Homo sapiens: one gene and its partner. The protein of the gene in region 1 purifies or fractionates together with the protein of each later gene. This does not show direct contact. Each region holds a gene or a part of one and is shown in the gene's direction. Other genes may lie near its edges.

Region 1 (6,873 bases):
TGGAATCATAGGGGGTCGAAGTGAGTTTTTCTTGCTGTCTTCTGTTCCTGAGTGGGATGGCAGAACTGTCTGAGCTACATTACTGTTGGAGGTGGTGTCAGCAGATCCATCAAGTGCAAGGTCTGCAAAATATCTCAAGCACTGATCTTAGGTTTTACAATAGTGATGTTATTCTCAGGAGCAATCTGGGGAGGTTCAGACTCACAGCTGAAGGCTGCATGGTCCCTAAACCATAGTTTCTAATCTTGTAGCTAATTTATTAGTCCAGAAAGGCAGACTGGTCCCCAGGCAAGAAGGGATTTTTTTTTTTTTTTTTTTTTGGAAAAGGGCTATAATCAATTTTGTTTCAGAGTTAAACTATAAATTCCTTCCCAAGGTTAGTTCAGCCTACACCCAGGAATGAACAAGGACCACTTAAAGGTCAGAAGCAAGATGGAGTAGGTTAGGTCTAATCTCTCCCACTGTCATAATTTCCTCAGTTATAATTTTTGCAAAGGTGGTTTCAAGATCAAGATGAGAAAAATGGGTCTTGGAGAGGTGAAATAACTGGTTTAAAAGCAAAGAGCTGCATTCTCTATACCTCCTCTCTTGTAGAATAAATGAATGATGTCTCTCTTGTAGGGAATTAGACAGATAGATGGGCAGCCACCACATTGGTTGTAATTAAGTTTCATTCTTTCTTCACCAGCCCAGCATTGTACTTGGCTGCAGCAGACCCAGAGCAGGCAGGACTGCCTTGTGGGGTGTGGACTGTTCTCCTCTGAGGCTGCAGAGAGCAGACAGCAAAGATCTGTCTGCTGCCCTTGAGGGGTGGCCATAGAGGCTTGGGGACAGGCAATTTCTAAGGGGATACAAAATGGATCCTTCCCCATCCTCCCACTTGTGTGCAGATATTTCCCGAAGTAAAGCTGAGCTAAACCCTAAAGGATAGTCAGGATTTAGATGGGAGAGGAAGGTGAAAGAAACAGATGACCAGGCGCAGTGGTGTGTACCTGTAGGCCCAGTACTTTGGGAGGCGGAAGTGGCAGGATCAATTGAAGCCAGGAGTTCAACACCAGCTTGGGCAACAAAGTAACACCCTGTTTCTAAATAAACAAACAAAATAAATGGATGCAGGGAAACAGTAAAATAGTTACTAAATGTGTATGATGCATGTGGGCTGGGCACAGTGGCTCACGCCTGTAATCCCAGCACTTTGGGAGGCCGAGGCGAGCAGATCATTTGAAATCAGGAGTTCAAGACCAGCCTGGCCAAGATGGTGAAACCCAGTCTCTATTAAAATTACAAAAAAAAAAAAAAAAAAATTAACTGGGTGTGGTGGTGAGTGCCTGTAATCCCAGCTACTTGGGAGGCTAAAGCAGCAGAATCTCTTGGACCTGGAAGGCGGAGATTGCACTGAGCTGAGATCATGCCACTGTACTCCACCCTGGGTGACAGAGTGAGACTTTGTCTGGAAAAAAAAAAAACCCCAAACCCACAAAAAATAAATTAATAAATGTGTATCATGTGCTTTATACTATGTTAGTGACAGAAACACAACAGTGAGCAAAACAGACCTCAGCCCTACCCTCATGGAGCTTTCAGTCTAGCGGAGGATACAGGCATAAAGAACCACCTATACTAGTATTAATTACAATCTGCAATGGGTATTGTGAAGGAAAAGTACAGGGCAATAGGAGAGCTTATGTTGGGTATGAGGTGATGATGTAACCAAGAGAGTGAAGGGAAGCTACTCCTGAAGAAAGGCATCTGAACTTGCATTTAAAGGGTAAGGAGAGGTTAACCAGAGGATGATAGTGGGGCATGGGTTAAGTGCATACCAGGTAGAAGGAACACATGTGTAAAGGCCCTGAGACAGGAGGGCACAAGGAAGGTTTGAGCAACTGAAAAGAACTTGCATGGCTGGAACAGTGGGTGGGGGTTGGGGGCTAGAAGGGGTCAGAAGGGGAGAAACGTAGGGGCAGATCCTTTAGGACCTTGAAGACAAACTAAGAATTTGGGCCTTTATGATTTTTTTTTTTTTTTTTTGAGACAGAGTTTCACTCTTTTTGCCCAGGCTGGAGTGCAATGTTGCAATCTTAGCTCACTGCAACCTCCGCCTCCCAGGTTCAAACGATTCTCCTGCCTCAGCCTCCCAAGTAGCTGGGATTACAGGTGTGCACCACCACACCCAGCTAATTTTGTATTTTTAGTAGAGATGAGGTTTCACCATATTGGCCAGGCTGGTCTCGAACTCTTGACCTCAGGTGATCTGCCTGCCTTGGCTTCCCAAAGTGCTGCGACTACAGGCATGAGCCACCTTGCCTGGCCTGATTTTTTTTTTTTTTTTTTTAACTGAGACAGGGTCTCACTCTGTCACTCAGCTGGAGTGTAGTGGTGCAAAGATGGCTCACTGCAGCTTTGACCTCCTGAGCTCAAACAGTCCTCCTGCCTCAGCCTCCCAAGTAGCTGGGAGTACAGGCACAGGCCACCATGCCTAGCTAATTACGTGTGTGTGTGAGATATGTATATGTATATATATATATATATATATATATATATATATTTTTTTTTTTTTTTTTTTTTTTTTGTAGAGCCAGGGTCCTGGTATGTTGCCTAGGCTGGTCTCGAACTCCTGGCTTCAAGTGATCCTCCTACCTCTGCCTCCCAAAGTACTGGGATTACAGGCATAAGCCACGCACCCAGCCCTTTATGGAAATTAATTGAAAAATTTTAACAAAGTTCTGTGATAATTTTGCCCCCTTTAAACATATCTTTGATTACAACATGAAGAACAATAGACCAATTAACAGCACTGTATTAGTTCAGGGTAAAAATGACAGTGGCTGGGATTCGGTGACAGCAGAGATGAATAATACCAGACAGATCCAAATAAATAAGGTGGATTTGGCCAGACAGTGGTTCATGAGTATAATCCTAGCATTTTAGGAAGCCAAGGCGGGAGGATCACTTCAGCCCAGGTGTTTGAGACGAGCCTGGGCAATATAGTGAGATCCCCATCTCTACAAAAAATCCATAAATTAGCTGGGTATGGTGGTGACCAGCTGTAGTCCCAGCTACTCAGGAGGCTGAGGTGGGAGGATTGCTTGAGCCCAGGAGCTCGAGGCTGCAGTGAGCCATGATTGCACCACTGCACTCCAGCCTGGGCGACAGTGAGACCCTGTGGGGGGCGGGGGCGGGGGAAAGCGGAGCTGTGGAGAGTGAAGCAGCCACCTCCCCCATGATTGAGGCTGTGTTGCTGAATTCCGTGAGTCACTTCATAAATGTTTGATGTCCAGGTTCAAGTCCCAACTCAGGTCCCAAAGCTGATGGGCCCAGGAACCCTCGTCCCTAAAACGATGAAACGACATCAGAGGGCGAGCAGCCCTAGAAGAAGCAGGCTCAGCTCGGGTGGAGGACTGCTGGATGGTCCTGGCACTTCTCTTTCCCCGAGCACGTTCTGCAGAAGAAGCGCTTTCCTAGTTCTCCCAAGGCCTCTGGCCTCACCTGTCACCCCTGTCCTTTGCCCAGGGATCAGTTTGGACTTCTTCCCAAACTTGGTCTACAGAGAAGTGAAGGGGCTGTTTCCTGTCCCACTTTTGAGAGTTTGCTTTAGAAACATAAAATTGGAAGGTGTCAGATTGATAGGCAGTTGGGAAGGACTCCGGCCACGCCTCTGGCTCCGTAGACGCTCCGCGCAGCCAAGACCCCTGAATCCCCAGCAGAGCGAAGATGTGGACGGAAGCCGAATGCCCACCCACCGCACTATTGTGGGCTGGGCGGGGGGGGGGGGGGGGGGGGCGGAGCGACCCCGGTGCCGTCATAGGGCCACGCCCTCGGGGGAGGGCATCGCGCCTGCGCCAGAACCGCTGCCTCGCTCCCGGAAGTGGAGGGTCTACACGAAGCGCCGCTGGGTCTGGGTGCCCGGAGGCAGCAGCGTTCGCGGAGTTCGCCCGCTGGCCCCCGATCACCATGTCGGCTTTCGACACCAACCCCTTCGCGGACCCAGTGGATGTAAACCCCTTCCAGGTAGAGCCCCTCTCCCGCCATCCAGCTCTCAGATTTCCCTAGGGCCCACGGCCGCCGCCCGGGCCTCTCGCTAGAGCCGGGAGACGTGGCGTAGGAGGGACGGGTCATCTGCCCAATGGGAGAGCGGGCTTTGAGGTCTGGCCTATCGTAACGCGTGAGGGGCGCGACTAGCAGCAGGTGGAACTGCAGAGGAGGCGGGGCGCTGAAGTGTTGGAGACAGTGGGGTCTTCTAGCACCCGGAGGCTGGGCTGTGCTAGGGAAGGGGACTGGAGCAGGTACGGTCGGACCCTTCCGGAAGTCTCCTAGCGTCAGGGAGAAGCGAAATGTGGCTATCGCATTCCCTCATTCTTGGATAGACACCTGTCTTGAGTCACTTTAGAAGAGGGGGTGACAGCAACATATGAGGAGGTGGTGAAGCCTCTGGTGGAGGGGAAAAATGTGGGAAAAGCCCAGGACACCTGCCACCGCTCCACCACCAGCCAAACTAGTGTATAAAGTACAGGAGAGCCCCTGAGATTTGTCAGGGAAAGAAAGATGGGAGAGGGCGGGAAGGTAGCCCAAGTTGAAAAATGGCCTTGATAAGAATTCCACATTTTGGCCATGGGTCTAGTTTGGAGTGGGTTTTGACCAGATAGGAGAGCCCGGGTTAGGGAGAGAGGAGAGGTGCGGGGGACTGTGAAAAATTCTGGACCCACAGGGAACGTTTGTCTGATGGAACTGTGTGTGGTGGCAACATAGTTGAGATGCACTGACGTGTGAGCTGGCCTGACTTTTTTTTTTTTTTTTGAGACGGAGTCTCGCTTTGTCGCCCAGGCTGGAGTGCATTGGCACGATTTCCGCTCACTGCAACCTCTGCCTCCCGAGTTCAAGCAATTCTCCTGCTTCAGCCTCCTGAGTAGCTGGGACTACAGGCGTATGCCACCACACCCAGCTAATTTTCATACTTTTAGTAGAGACGGGGTTTCACCGTGTTGGCCAGGCTGGTCTCAAACTCCTGACCTCAGGTGATCCATCCGCCTCGGCCTTCCAAAGTGCTGGGATTACAGGTGTGAGCCACCACGCCTGGCCTGACCTTTTGAACAGCAATCAAGGAAGAAACAATCTTCCTGCTTTCTTTCTTTTCCTTTTTTTTTGTTTTGTTTTGTTTTGTTTTTTGAGACAATTCTTGCTCTGTCGCCCAGGCTGGAGTGCAGTAGCGCGATCTCGGCTCACTGCAGCCTCAGCCTCCTGGGTTCAAGTGATTCTCGTGCTTCAGCCTCCCGAGAAACTGGGATTACAGGTGTGCACCACCACACCCGGCTAATTTTTGTATTTTTAGTAGAGACGGGGTTTCACCTTATTGGCCAGACTGGTCTCAAACTCCTGGCCTGAAGTGATCCACCCACCTTAGCCTCCCAAAGTGCTGGGATTACAGGGGTGAGCCACCACACCTGGCCTCTTTTTTTTGAGACAGAGTTTTGCTCTTGTTGCCCAGGCTGGAGTGCAGTGGCGCGATCTCGGCTCACTGCAACCTCAGCCTCCTGGGTTCAAGCAATTCTCCTTCCTCAGCCTCCTGAGTAGCTAGGATTACAGGCATGCACCACCACGACCGGCTAATTTTGTATTTTTAGTAGAGACGGGGTTTCTCCACGTTGGTCAGGCTGGTCTCGAACTCCCGACCTCAGGTGATCCACCTGCCTCGGCCTCCCAAAGTGCTGGGATTACAGGCATGAACCACTGCGCCCAGCCCTCTTTCTTCCTTTTTTAAGGCAGGGTCTCACTCTGTCGCCCAGGCTGTAGCACAGTGGAGGTCATGGCAGCCTTGACCTCCAGGATTCAAATGATTATTTGAATCCCACCTCAGTCTCCTGAGTAGCTGGGACTACAAGAATGTGCCACTGGGCCTGACTCCTTTTAAAAAAAATTTTTGTAGAGAAGGGGTCTCGCTGTGATGCCCAAGCTGGTCTCGAAATCCTGGTCTCAAGCAATCCTCTGGCCCCAGCCTCTCAAAGTGCTATGATTACAGGCATGAGCCACAGGACAGTCTTCCTACTTAAAGCCCACACCTTTCTGCCTTTCAGCTGAGAGCACAGGGATGATCTTTTTCCACCATGAGGGGCTGAACTGTTACCTCCAGAGCTCCTATGCCTCTTGTTTCACGTCTGCTCAAAACCCGTTCTAGGGAAGCTTGTTTGTGCTGACTGGTGAATTATGAGCCCTGATATTCTGCTCTGTCAGGATGTCACCAGGCACATTAACTCACCCTGCTTGTCCTTTATTTTGGTCATTGGCAGCTTTTAAGTTTCCTGCAGGTGTCAGAGAAGTCCTTGAAGGAGTCCTTCCTGTCATTCACAGCATGAGTTTTCCCACTTTGAATCGCTTCAAGGGTCAGAGCAAAATCAAAGGAGACTTGAACTAAATAATTATACGCTGTCAGGAGAGTGAAAATGTTTTGCTTCTTTCTTGGTCTCAAGGTGTCTTAGCCAACAGGAGCCCTCAGGGCAAATTCTGATAGCTTGTTCCTTAGAACATCAGGGAATTCTGAACATTCCTCTCGTAGCTTAATGTTTCTTGACAGAGCGTTTGCAAGGACCTTGTCTCTTATGTAAGGCAAACAGTCATCTCTATTGAGTAAAGAAAGAAGATTTGCATTTTTTTTTTCTGCCAATGTCTTCTGGTAACAGACTTTAATTACAAAACTGCTGTATAATACTGGGGTTTGGGTTTTAGTAGGATCTTGTAGCCTTATGGTGTATGTTGTATGTGATGATTTTCCATTTTTTATGTGTGTTTTTTTGTCCTCTCAGAATCAGAAATAAAAAGTCTGCTGCTGTCTGACAGAGAGGAAGTCAGTTGTCTAAAAATGCAGAGAGCTTTGCTCCAGTG
Region 2 (7,035 bases), on another chromosome or scaffold:
GACCAACACGGTGAAACCCCGTCTCTACTAAAAATACAAAAATAGCTGGATGTGGTGGCACGTGCTTGTAATCCCAGCTACTCAGGAGGTTGAGGCAGGAGAATCGCTTGAATCCAGGAGGCTGAGGTTGCAGTGAGCCAAGATCGTGCCACTGCACTCCAGGCTGGGAGACAGAGCGAGGCTCCGACTCAAAAAACAAAAAAAACCCAAAAAATTCTTATCACCCCAGCAATAAAGTGGCTGTTTCCCTTAATGTTTTGTTTGCTGGTGAGTTTCTGCTGTCAGTTTCCTCATTCCGTCTATCACCTGATTGAGACTTGGAGCATGTATACTGATAGCTGTAAGAATTTTTTTCCAGGTTTTTTGTTCCTGTTCCAGGAACAGCAACACAAGAAAGAATCAAGTTTATCCAGATGAAGAGGATAAGCACGTGTTTCTGTGTGTGTGAGCCAGCCCCAATCCCACTGTCTCACTAATAGCAGGCAGTTGTGTAACTATGCCAACTACCAGATTGTTTCAGGCCTTCATTTGATCAGCAGAGGCATTTAATAAAGTGCCTCTTAACCCATCAGCTCATTAATATTCAGTGGGGCCTTGAAGTTGGTTGCTGAAGTTGAAACTGTTTGTGTTCTGCTTATGTCGTTGGCCGCTTAGCTAAAGAAGTCTGTTAAACTTCTTTGGCCTTCTTACTGATGGTGAGACATGAACACTTAAGGGGACAGATGCAAAGGTGAGTCAGTGTACCTTAGACAGGGTTGGAAAACCTGGGTTGTGTGAGGTGGAGGGTGGCAAATGAGGCCTGACTCTAGAGCCAGGCTCCCTGTTTAGGAAGCCAGCAGGTGAAAAGTATAGCACCTAGGTAAGAGGAGGACATTCCTGGGGTTCTCACTCCAGCCTGGGGCAGGCCAGGTGAGGCCCCGGGCACAGATTCAAATCGCTGAGCCATGGGCTAGGCATCCAAGATGAAGAGCCTAGAGCCTGCTCTCCTCATGTGCCCCCTTGGTCATCGGGGGTTCAAGCTCACCTTAGGAAACTGGCCTCAAGATTCCTGTTTCCACTGACTCAGCGTGGGGGCCACACAGGACCAGGATGGTCTGAGAGTGAAGAGGAGTGAGGGTGGTTGTCTGTGTTGAGAGAGAGGAGGACTAGCCAGCAGCCTCTTGCTGGAGTCCCCCTAAAGGTGACAGTGAGTTTATGAAGCACTTCCTGCATGCCAGGTACCAAGGCACAGGGGAACTGATAATTCACCTGAGGCTAGTGGGCAAGCTGGAAGGGGTGTCCAGTTGTCTGGTTCTGCAGCCTGGCCTCAGAGCTCGGCAGGAGGATGGCAAGATAGTAAAGAGGGCTTTTGATTGAGGAGGCTGAGGTGGGGTCAGTGCTTGAGGACAGGAGTTCAAGACCAGCCTGGCCAATATAGTAAGACTCCGTCTCCTTAAAAAAAAATTTTTTTTGGCTGGGCACGGTGGCTCACGCCTGTACTCCCAGCTCTTTGGGAGGCCAAGGCAGGTGGATCATGAGGTCAGGAGTTCAAGACTAGCCTGGCCAACATAGTGAAACCCCATCTTTGCTAAAAATATGAAAAATTAGCTGGGCATGGTGGCGGGTGCTTGTAATCCCAGCTACTTGGGAGGCTGAGGTGGGAGAATCGCTTGAACCTGGGAGGCGGAGGTTGCAGTGAGCCAAAATCGCACCATTGCACTCTAGGCCCGGCAACAGTATGAGACTCCATCTCAAAAAAAAAATAAATTTTTTTTAAGGCTTTTGAGCAAGAAAAGTGGATGAGCTGAAATGAGCAAATAGGAAGGAAACTCCTAGTTAAAGGAGGATGGGTATTTTTATTTGGGTATAGCTCATGGCTAAAGAAACTTAAAAGGAAAACCTAAATGATCAGTTTCGAAAGTGAATTCCAGCCGGGCGTGGTGGCTCAGGCCTGTAATCCCAGCACTTTGGGAGGCCGAGGTGGGCGGATCACCTGAGGTCGGGAGTTCGAGACCAACCTGACCAACACAGAGAAACCCCGTCTCTACTAAAAATACAAAATTAGCCAGGCGTGGTGGTGCATGCCTGTAATCCCAGCTACCCGGGAGGCTGAGGCAGGAGAATTGCTTGAACCTGGGAGGCAGAGGTTGCAGTGAGCCAAGATCTCGGTGAGCTAAGATTGCACCATTGCACTCCAGCCTGGGCAACAAGAGGGAGACTCTGTCTCAAAAGAAAAAGTGAATTCCAGCTAAATTCTGAAACTCCTTGTTCTCTGAACTCATATTATTAGTTGAAGATTCTAAGCCCCACTAATAACTGTAATGCAATTTGAGCAAATCCCTTTTAGGGAGAAAGTGACAGCTATATGAAACTACATAGTGTGGGCGTATGATAATAACAGGTAACTCTTCTCAGCACTTACTGTGGTGTCAAGCACCGTGCTAAGTTAAGGACTTTCCCCTTGTAAGAACTGTAAGGTAGGTTTTTTTTATTGTTCAGTTTTACAAGCGAGCAAACTGAAGCTCAGGAGGAATTAAGCAACTTGTCAAACAGTACATGAGAGATTCGTTTTATGTATTATGTATAAACATATACAGATTGATTTTTTCAAAAGATTTTTATTGCGATATAGTTCACTTATATAATCTACATTTAAAGGTTATTCAATGGTTTTTAGTATATCTGCTGAGTTATGCAACTATCACTACTGTCAAATTTCAGAAATTTTTTTCTTTTTCTTTCTTTTTTGTTTTTTTGTTGTTTTTGAGACAGGGTCTCACTCTCTTGCCTAGGCTGGCACCATCACAGCTCACTGCACCCTTGACCTTCTCGGCTTAAGCAATCCTCCCACCTCAGCCTCCCAAATAGCTAGGACTGCAAGCAAGCACTACCACGCTTGGCTAATTTTTAAAGATTTTTTTGTAGAGAAAATGTGTCCCTATGTTGCCCAGACTGGGCTCAAGCAGTCCTCCTGCCTTGGCCTGCCAAAGTGCTAAGATTACAGGTGTTAGCCACTGCACCCACCCTGTAATATTTTCCTCACCCGAAAAAGAAACCCCATACCTGTAGTAGTCACTCCTCATTTCTCCCCAACCCCTCCAGCCCAGGCAACCTGCTAACCTACTTCCTGTCTCTAGATTTGCCTATTCTGGACATTTCATATAAATAGAATCATATGTGGCCTTTTGTTTCTTCTTTTACTTAGCATAATGTTTTGGAGGTTCATCTACGTTGTGGCATGTTTCAGGTGCTTAATTCCTTTTTATCACTGAATATATTCCATTGCATGGATGTACTATGTTTTGTTTGTTAGACGAAAATGTTTCTCCGTTTGTCAGTTGATGGACATTTGGGTTGTCGCCACTTTTTGGCTATTATGAGTAACGCTGCTGTGTGTATTTGTGTATATGTTTTTGTGGGTTTCCTTTTTTTTGAGACAGCTTGCTTTGTTGCCCAGGCTGGAGTGCAGTGGCATGATCTCAGCTCTCTGCAACCTCTGCCTCCTGGGTTTAAGCGATTCTCCTGTCTCAGCCTCCCTAGTAGCTGGGATTACAGGTGTGCACCACCACGCCTGGCTAATTTTTGTATTTTTAGTAGAGATGGGGTTTCACCATGTTGGCCAGGCTGGTCTTGAACTCCTGACCTCAAGTGATCAGCCCACCTTGGCCTCCCAAAGTTCTGGGATTACAGGCATGAGCCACTGCACCCAGCCCCATGTATAAGTTTTTGTATGGGTATATGTTTTCATTTATCTTGGGTATATACCTTGGAGAGGAATTGCTGGGTCATGTAGTTACTCTATGTTTTAACTTTTTGCGGAACTGCCAGCAATTTTTCGAAGTGGCTGCACTATTTTACATTTCCACCAGCAGTGTATGAGATTCCAGTTTCTTCACATCCTTGTCAACACTTGGTATTATCTGTTGTTTTGTTTGTACGCATCCTAGTGGGTGTGAAGTGGCATCTCATTGTGGTTTTGATTCGCATTTCTCTTATGATTAATGATGTTGAGCATCTTTTCATGTGCTTATTGGCAATTTGTGTATCTTCCTTGGAGAAATGTCATCTCAAATCCTTTGCCCATTTAAAAATTGAGTTATTTGACTTGTTGAGTTGTAAAGGTTCTTTGCATATTCTGGATAGTAGGCCCTTATCAGTATGTGATTTGCAAATATTTTCTCCCATTCCATGGGTTGTCTTTTTTTTTTTGAGATGGAGTTTCGCTCTTGTTGCCTAGGCTGGAGTGCAATGGTGTGATCTCGGCTTACCACAACCTCCGCCTCCCAGGTTCAAGCAATTTTCCTGCCTCAGCCTCCCGAGTAGCTGGGATTACAGGCATGCGCCACCATGCCTGGCTAATTTTGTATTTTTAGTAGAGATGGAGTTTCTCCATGTTGATCAGGCTGATCTCGAACTCCCTACCTCAGGTGATCCTCCCGCCTTGGCCTCCCAAAGTGCTGGGATTATAGGGATGAGCCAATGAGCTCAGCCAAAATTTTGTTCTTTTGCATGTAGATATGCAGTTGTTCAAGCGGCACTTGTTGAAAGGACAGTTCTTTCCCAATGAATTATTTTGGCACCCTTGTTGAAAATCAATTGACCATAAATGTGTGGGTTTATTTCTGGACTCTAAATTGTATTCCATTGACCTGTATGTCTGTCCTTATGCCAGTACCACGTTGTCTTGATTGCTGTAGCTTTGTGTAGTACGTTTTAAAATTGGCAAGCGTGAAATGTGAGTCCTCAGACCTCTCTCTTCAAGGTGGCTATTCTAGGTTTCTTGCATTTCCACATGAATTCTAAGATCAGCTTGTCAATGTCAGCAAAAAGCCAGCTGAGATTTTGATAGGAGTTGAATTGAATCTATACCTCAGTTTGGAGAGTTTTGTCATTTTAACAATATTGTCTTTTAAACCATGAGCATAAGGATGTTTTTCAATTTATTTAGGTCTTCTTTAATTTTTTGAGGTTTTTTTTGTTTGTTTGTTTTTTGAGATGGAGTTTTTACTATTGTTGCCCAGGCTGGAGTTCAATGGCACAATCTTGGCTCACTGCAACCTCCGTCTCCCAGGTTCAAGCGATTCTCCTGCCTCAGCCTCCCAAGTAGCTGGGATTACAGACATGTGCCACCACGCCCGGCTAATTTTGTATTTTTAGTAGAGGTGGGGTTTCTCCATGTTGGTCAGGCTGGTCTCGAACTCCCGACCTCAGGTGATCCGCCCACCTCAGCCTCCCCAAGTGCTGGGATTACAGGTGTGAGCCACCACACCAGGCCAGTTCTTCTTTAATTTTTTTTAAACAATGTTTTATGGTTTAAGAGTATGTAAGTTTTATATTTATTGTGTCATATTTATTCCTAAATGTTTTATTTTTTGATGCTATTATAGATGGAATTGTTGTCTTAATTTCATTTTTGAGTTGCTCATTACAAGTATGTAGAAATATAATTGATTAGTTATTGATCTTGTGTCCTGAAACCTTGCTGAACTCATTTAATAGTTCTAATAGTTTTTTGGTGGATTCCTTAGGATTTTATACACAAGATCATGTCATCTTCCTTTCCATTCTGGATGCTTTTTATTTATTTTTCTTGCCCAGTTGCCATGACTAGAATCTCTAGTACAATGTTGACTAGATATGGTGAAAGAGGACATCCTCATCTTGTTCCTCATCTTAGAGGGGAAACATCCAGTCTTTCACCATTAACTATGATGTTAGTTGTGGGTTTTTTAGAGATGCTTTTTGAGGAAGTTTCCTTTTATTCCTAGTATGTTGAGAGTTTTGGTTTTTTTCTTTTAATCATGAAGGGATGTTGGAGTTTTGTCAGATGTTTTTGCTGCAGCTGTTGAGATGATCATGTATTTTGTTTTATCCTATGATATGGTGTAATACGTTAATTGACTATCTGAAGTTATACCATTCTTATATTTGTAGGATAAGTCTCAGTTGGTCATAGTGTATAATACCCTTTTTATATGTTGCTGAATTTAGTTTGCCAGTATATCGTGGAGGATTTTTGCATCTATATCATAAGAGATATTAGTGTGTGGTTTTCTTTTCTTGTGACGCATTTGTCATCAGGATAATAGTGGGTTCATAAAATGAATTGGAAAGTTTTCCTTCTTCATCTATTTATTGGAAAAGTTTGTGAAACATTGGTATTAATTCTTTAAATGTTTAATAGCATTCACCAGTGAAGTCCAGGCATGGTGGCTCGTGCCTGTAATCCCAGCACTTTGGGAGGCTGAGGTGGGCAGATCACATGAGGTTAGGAGTTCAAGACCAGCCTGGCCAACATGGCAAAACCCCAATTTTACTAAAAGTACATAAATTAGCCAGGTGTGGTGGTGGGCACCTGTAATCCCAGCTACTCAGGAGGCTGAGGCACAAGAATCACTTGAACCTGGGAGGTGGAGGTTGCAGTGAGCTGAGATTGTGCCACTATACTCCAGCCTGGGCGACAGAGCGAGACTCAGTCTGGAAAAAAAACCCATCTGGGCCTGCATTTTTTTTGGTGGGCAGTTTTAAAATTACTAATTCAATCTCTTGTTATAAACTTATTCAGATTTTTGGTTTCTTTTTGAGTCAGTTTTGCTAGTTTGCATTTCTGTAGGGATTTATCTTGTTCATCTAAGTTGTCTAATTTGTTGGCATACAGTTGTTCATAGTCTTCTTTTATTTTATTTTATTTTTTGAGACGAAGTTTTACTCTTGTTGCCCAGGCTGGAGTGCAATGGCACAATCTCGGCTCACCACAACCTCCGCCTTCCGGGTTCAAGCAATTCTCCTGCCTCAGCCTCCTGAGTAGCTGGGGCTACAGGCATGTGCCACCACGCGCGGCTAATTTTGTATTTTTAGTAGAGACGGGGTTTCTCCATGTTGGTCAGGCTGGTCTCGAACTCCCGACCTCTAGTGATCCACCCGCCTCGGCCTCTCAAAGTGTTGGGATTACAGGCATGAGCCACTGCACCCGGCCCATAGTTTTCTTTTATAATCCTTTTTATTTCTGTAGAGTTGCTAATATTCCATCTTTAATTCCTGATTTTAGTAAGTTAA

Evidence for each region. The genes of interacting proteins can lie anywhere in the genome.
Region 2: the proteins of SCAMP2 (region 1) and ANKRD13A purify together in Homo sapiens (affinity purification with mass spectrometry; 2 studies listed by BioGRID and IntAct, with this or other methods). This does not show direct contact.

Annotation. Positions count from the first base shown.
Region 1 is NC_000015.10:74,870,334-74,877,206, reverse strand, and holds the start of SCAMP2 (secretory carrier-associated membrane protein 2), read left to right. Parts: upstream 1-3,841; 5' UTR 3,842-3,951; coding exon 3,952-4,008; intron 4,009-6,873. UniProt on the Homo sapiens protein: Functions in post-Golgi recycling pathways. Acts as a recycling carrier to the cell surface.
Region 2 is NC_000012.12:110,002,426-110,009,460, forward strand, and holds part of ANKRD13A (ankyrin repeat domain-containing protein 13A), read left to right. Parts: intron 1-7,035. UniProt on the Homo sapiens protein: Ubiquitin-binding protein that specifically recognizes and binds 'Lys-63'-linked ubiquitin. Does not bind 'Lys-48'-linked ubiquitin.